Linked DNA regions of Homo sapiens. The gene in region 2 interacts genetically with the main gene of each other region. Each region holds a gene or a part of one and is shown on either strand. Other genes may lie near its edges. The genes, in order: PITRM1 and LONP1.

Evidence for each region.
Region 1: changes in LONP1 (region 2) and PITRM1 together harm fitness more than expected from each alone (negative genetic interaction), as found in Homo sapiens cells (one large-scale study listed by BioGRID).

Annotation. Positions count from the first base shown.
Region 1 is NC_000010.11:3,162,577-3,166,398, forward strand, and holds part of PITRM1 (presequence protease, mitochondrial isoform 2 precursor), read right to left. Parts: intron 3,805-3,822; coding exon 3,653-3,804; intron 2,952-3,652; coding exon 2,837-2,951; intron 2,759-2,836; coding exon 2,662-2,758; intron 1,310-2,661; coding exon 1,149-1,309; intron 1-1,148. UniProt on the Homo sapiens protein: Metalloendopeptidase of the mitochondrial matrix that functions in peptide cleavage and degradation rather than in protein processing. Has an ATP-independent activity. Specifically cleaves peptides in the range of 5 to 65 residues.
Region 2 is NC_000019.10:5,693,677-5,696,404, forward strand, and holds part of LONP1 (lon protease homolog, mitochondrial isoform 1 precursor), read right to left. Parts: intron 2,696-2,728; coding exon 2,573-2,695; intron 2,495-2,572; coding exon 2,378-2,494; intron 1,226-2,377; coding exon 1,085-1,225; intron 877-1,084; coding exon 711-876; intron 94-710; coding exon 1-93. UniProt on the Homo sapiens protein: ATP-dependent serine protease that mediates the selective degradation of misfolded, unassembled or oxidatively damaged polypeptides as well as certain short-lived regulatory proteins in the mitochondrial matrix.

The DNA.
Region 1 (3,822 bases), on a different chromosome or scaffold from region 2:
CCAGTGGAGGCGAGCAGACCTCACATGATGGTAGGATGTGGCCGTCTATGGAGAGCTCCCCATGAGGGACTCTGCTTACAAAGGCACAGCCTGACTCAAACTAAGTCTTTGGATCTAAGTTCCAGTGCTCAGGAAACACAGGAACATGGCACCCAACACCAGGCGGGAACAGCCAGGCCACCTGGAAAGTGAGTGCGCCAGAAAGAAACTGGGCCTGCACACTCCTCTGCCGTCCCCTAGAGGGTGCCCAGGAGAAACCCGGGCCGACCAGGTGTGACCTGTGGGACCCCGTGCAACAAACACTTTGGGGCCAACTAGAAAATCTGAATATGGAATAAGAAATAGGCAGTTTTAAGAAAGTATGTTTTATTCTATTAAAACTGAAAATGGCATTAGCTCATGTAAGAAAAAATCCTCACGTTTTAGGGTCACAAATTCAAACATTTACGGGCAAATGATCATGACGTCTATAATTTACTTCCAAAAACTTCAGCAAGGGAAAGGATATCTATTACATGATAAGTGTTTAGGGGCTCATTATTCTAGTATCTCTACTTTTCTGTATGCTTCAAGTTTTCATAATTATTTTTACATAAAATAATCTTGCAAATATGTTTTTACATTAGCATTCATATGTAAATACAATTAGTGTTTTATATAAGATATATGACTATATTATTATTATAATGACCTTGTATTAGTGACATAAGAACAAGCAATGTATCAGAAAGTGAGGATGTAATTAAGGTTCAGTAACTGCATCCACTATTGGAAGAGCACTTCTCCGTGCCAAGGAGAGGGCTTCAAGCTTCACACCCCGTGTCAAGGTGGGCACCATCCATGCACCCCCACTTTCCACGCAACCAAGCTAGATGTGAGGCAACAGGCTGCGGGGCCAGGACCCTCCTCTGGGGGACTCTAAACGCTGTGTTTGTAACCACCATGCTGAGCCTCCTGAGGGCTATCATTGTAAATGTCCAAAATCAATGTCCAAGTAAGATAGGCAAACTTAGGCCAAGAATCTTACCTAGACTTAGATATTTCTTAAGCATTGCTAAATGTGAGAGAAGCCATGCCATAAACTGTTAAGAACACAAACAAGTCAACTTTTCACAATCCACCATCAAACTTTTCCAACAAAATATTACCTAGCATTGCTTGGGTGATAGTGAGTGGCATGAAACTGCTTAAGCTGCTCCCATGTAAGCTCCGGGATGCACAGTGGGTCACCCCCGGAGACCACTGAGTACGTGTGGTCAGGAAGAAGTCTGTTCTGAAGGTGCTGGGAGAATATCCTCTCATTGTCTGTCTTGAAACGTAAAATAAATAAATCATAAGTATACATGTAAAATAATACACACGTTACATTACTTACAATATAGCCAATTGATCACATTCTGGTGCATACACCTGTAATACTTTGCAAATAAAGCTGTTCTAATGGTTTAAAAAAAAAAAAAAAACACCCACGCAGGCATTGTTTAACACGGTATTCAATCATTCATCACCCACGCACAGGACCCAAGGATTGAGAAGAACAATGGATTTTTTGATGTGTGGTGCAACAAACGCATAGCTGAGGGCTGTAAATCGGGATGGATCAGTCGGTCTGCCCACCAGCCGTGAGGGAAGTGGGGAGAAGCTGTCACCCCAACTTGAGTTCAAGAAGACTCCTTGGAAGAAAAGACCACCAAATTGAGAATGAAAAGGTAAGAAATAGTTCACCAGCCGAGAGGAGCTACGGGAATCAGAGAGCAGGCCACCCATGAGCCTCAGGGACACCAGGACAGACAGGTTGTCCAAGTCACAAAGGGACATGAAGACATGGGCCCAGGACAGCAGCTCTTAATCCAAAATGGTCTCAAGAATCCTTTACACTCTGAAAAATTAACCCATTTATGCCTGAGGTTGCAATTTTTTTGTAAAAAATCAGACCTTGGCGATGACCTTGAGCTGTAGGACATAAATAACTCCCACAAGCTTAGGGTGCCAATAATGGAACACTAGGCATAAATGCGTTTTAATGAGGACCCAAACAGCTTTTGATTATGTGGGCGTTTTTGCCTGTGTAGGTGCCTGTGTGTGTTTATATAATTTTTCTATATTCTAAATTAAAGCTGAGACATTTAAAAAATACTTATTCATTAAGGTAAGCCATCATTACATGTTGATATAAATATTTTTGAAAAATACTTCTCATAACAAAGTAAAAAACTGATTAGAGTGGTGCTGTGTTGCCTTTTTTGCAAATCTCTGTAGCGTCTGGCTCAGAGGTGAAGCTGGACTCCCCCATTTGCTCTGTATGCAGCTCGCTGTGTGTCACACACCTTGCCATGCAGCCTCTAGAAAGTACACCGTGTACTTGGGCAAGAATGAATGAAAAGACACTGTCTTGGTAGTGGTATGAAAATAGCTTTTATCTCACAGACTTGCTGCAGATCACATACCAGGGGTCCCCAGACATGGTCTGAGACCTGCTGGGAAGAACAGCAGCCTGGCCCTGCTACCCCGACTTCTGCTCACAGCACTGACCCCAGCTAATTCAAGAATGTATCACCTATAATGAGAATATTAAATAAAATCTTCCAGATGTGTCTATATCATGATATTGTACATGGGAAAGGTAAGCTGAACACAACATAAAAAAGGAAGAAAACTTACAAACGCTCCCTTCATCTCATTAAAGACGACTCCTTTAAAGACCAAGGGCGTCTGGGGGTCGCTCGGATTCTCATGTTCCAGCCGCCATCCTTCCTGCCTGAGGACAAATCATTATAAGCTGATAGTGACTCAAATACTAAAGTCTGTATCAACTAGTTAATCATTCATGACATACCAGAAATCCAGCTCGCGTAAACATGGGAAAAAGGTGGCATCCAAATACACCGAGAGGAGATTCTGAAAGTCCTTGGGATTTTGTGTGGAAAATGGATACAGAGTATAATCACTAGCTGGGTACAAATGAAAAGTGAAATTGTAAAATATAACAGATTTCTACTAAAATTATTGACTCTCAAGACTCATTCCCCCTTTGTCCTAGGACAGTAAGCTGTAGCTATTCTTGGGATGGGGCAGTGGCCCCATGCTCTGGTCCCTGGCCTCAGCAGCTGTCCCAGCTCATAACCCCAAGTGCCGGCTTTCCCATCCCGTCTCAGGATCTGCACTCGACGGGCACCAGGGCTTTCTTCAGCGAATATCTAAACTCTCTCAAGTTTCTCCAGAGACTTTCATACATCTACAAAGATGACCTCATTCTGTAACAGCATGGATTTAACCCGCTCTTCAATGTCACTCCCCCACAGAATGCACTGTTCATCGTCACCCTATCCACTATCGTCAGTCTTACTAAAAGTCAAACATCAACATTAGTAGTAACTCTGGCATTGTAGCGATATCTCCAAGAGAAAATTGTTTTGAACTTTTCTGGGAAAAGTTCACATATGTTTTCTTAAAACGCTAGTTTTTACAATCTCGCTACCATGTGGCTTTCCTGAAGGATTAAATTTCTAATGTCCTTCAACTAGAGAGAGGTAAAAATTTTTCTAGAACATGAATTGCCCACTCCCCTCATTCCTTCTCAGAAACTAACTGAATTCCAGTGGGTGTGCCTGGCAAACCCAAAAGCAGTTTCTGTTCAGGATGCTGGTCTTACCTGTGAAGGCGTTCATGAACGTGGAGAGGGACCGGTTCAACATTTTGAAGAAAGGGTCTCTGCACGGATATTTCTGAGACCCACAAAGGACGGTATGCTCAAGAATGTGAGGAACACCAGTACTGTCCATGGGAGTAGTACGGAACTGCACGCTAGGGAAGGAGAATGAC
Region 2 (2,728 bases):
GGCCTGTCACCTCCAGGCTGCCATCCTTGTCACCCTTGGCATCCTTGTCCTGTGGCCGTCTCAGGGATGTCTCCACAAACAGCGTGGAGCCTCCTGAAACAGGTGTGGAGCTGTGAACACGGGAGGCCTCGGAGCCCAGGCCGGTGCTCACTCCACCCCTCGGGGCCACTCTGACCGCTCCTGCCCCAGTTTAGCATCTTGGTGCCCCTGGGCAGGGGTTGGTGTCCCATCGTGAGCCAACGCTGGCCTCTACGTTTGCTGCGTTGCGGGTTCCTGGCTCTGTACGCCCCACAGGGCAGCCCCCAGCAGCTGCCAGCCACAGAGGACACGCCCAGGGCTACAAGGCCCAGCTGCCGCTGCCCTGCAGACAGACACAAGCCCTTCTCCAGCCCCTCCCGCACCATCCCCTTTGCCCTCTCGCCTCCTTTGTGCGTGGTGGCCCCAAGGCCCATCTGGATGAGCTTGTCCTTACCTGTAAGCCTATCAAAGTGGCACCCAAATCCATAAGGCCCATGGTGTGCTGCCACCCCCATGTGTCACAGCCTTCCCCTCCCTCAGCCCAGACCCCCTGGGCTCCCAGCACACCACCCCCCGCCAGAGGCCGTTCAGAGCCACCTGAGGCCCACTGCACAGGTGTACAAGGTGGGACCTGCTTGTTCTCGGGTAGAAATGGGAATGGCTTTGGGGTCTTCTCCCGCCACCACGCTCACCCATTGCGGTCCAGGCCAGCCCCATGACCACGCCGGGCGGTGTCACGTCATACATGCGCTCCACGGTGAACACGGGCTTCCCCACGAAGTCCTGCAGGTTCTCGGGCGTCACCTCCACGGACTCGGCCTCGCCGCTGACAATCTTGTAGGCCGATTTCCGTAACACCTGGGCGGTCAGGGCAACACAATGGGCACGGGAAGGTGGGGTGACAGGTGCGGGGTGGTGGGGTGACGGGCACAGAAAGGTGTGACGGGCGCGGGGTGGTGGGGTGATGGGCGCAGGAAAGTGGGATGATGGGCATGGAAAGGTGGGGTGATCAGCGTGGGATGGTGAGGTGGGCGGCAGGTGCCAGGAGGGCGGGCTGGCCGCTCACCTTCTCCACTTGCTTCTGCAGGTTGCGGACACCGCTCTCGCGGCAGTACTGCTTGATGAGCAGCGTCAGCACGTCCGATGACAGCTTGGCCTTGCTCTCATCCAAGCCACACAGGGCGCGAGCCTGGGGCACCAGGTAGCGCTGCAAGGGCAACCGTCAGGGTTGGGTCTGGAGGGACCTTGCCCACCAGCTCAGTCTAGAACCTGGGAGCCAATGCCTCTCCCATGGCCCCCAGACCCTGGCCTGGGAACGAGGTCCCTGATGGTGAAACCAGGGCCTGGACACCCCGCCCTGCCACCCACCATGCCCAGAGGCCCCAGGCCTTTGCTTGTGCTGCGTCCTCTGCTTGGATCCACTTCCTATCCCCCAATGGTATCTTAGATGCCGCTTCCTCCAGGAAGGCCTCCTGGTTGCCCCATGGGCTGGCCCCATACACAGACCCAGGGCCTGTAGGGTGGCTGACTGGTTACGTGGCTGCTGCCCTCAGCACATGAGGAAGGGGACTGGGTCAGGGGCTCCAGGGTCACCCACAGCCCCACACAATTCTTGCCACAGTTCTGAGCTCTAATGGCATGGGGGAGGGCATCTGTGAGACGGACAGAGCCATGCAAGCCACTCTACATCTGCCACTGATACTGGGGGGCACTCCTGATGCCCTGAGGGGTCCCCATGCCCCCCAGTCCTGTCCCCAGGAACTACAGGCCCGTCCCTTGGAGAAGTCAGGCTGGGAACTGGGCCCAGCAGTGGGCATTGAAGCCCCCAGGGGACACGAGGATGCTGGGAGGGCCTCAAGGGCAGGGACCAGTGCCCACCACTGGCTGTCAAAGGGCTCCTAGGGGAGAAATGCACTCAGCACCTTTGCAGAAAAAAAAACACATGAGAAATATGGGCCCCTGCATGCTCCTCACTGAAACCACTTCTCCTCCAAGCCTCATTCTGGGTGGGAGCCACAGGCCCCACTGCTTCCGGCTGCCAGAAACCTTCCCTACACTCTGGGCCAGGTGGGGGCCCCACCATGGGGCAGCCTGGAGGCCCCGGGAGACAGAGTGTGTGGCCTGACGGTGGTGGGCGGTGTTTTGGACAGTCCCAGGCCCTAAACCCTGCGCCCACTCGCGCCACCTGCAGCTGCTCGCAAGCGTCTGGTGTGTCTCTCACGGCCCCATCTGCTCCTCGGCCGCAGGTCCCACCTGTCTCTCCCGGGCCCAGGAGCTCCCAGAGGCACGGCCTCTGCAGGCTCTGGGGGGCGCCCCCTGCTCTGGGAAGGGGACAGCAGTGGGGAGGGGCTGGGCTTACCTCCGCAATGGCCAGCTTCTCCTGGGCCACGTAGCCCGACACGTTGATCATCTCCATACGGTCTCGCAGCGGCTCGGGGATGGTGTCCGTGACGTTGGCCGTGCAGATGAACAGCACCTGGGGGCGGCGGCAAGGTGCTGGGGGACTGGCCGCTTACCCTCCCCAGCAAGCCCAGGCCCCAGACAGGCCCCCCACCTTGGACAAGTCCACGGGCACGTCCAGGTAGTGGTCCAGGAAGTTGGCATTCTGCTCTGGGTCCAGCAGCTCCAGCAGTGCCGACGACGGGTCCCCCTGGTAGCCTCGGCCGATCTTGTCCACCTGGGGCAGCAGACAGCAGGTGGTGCCCCTCGC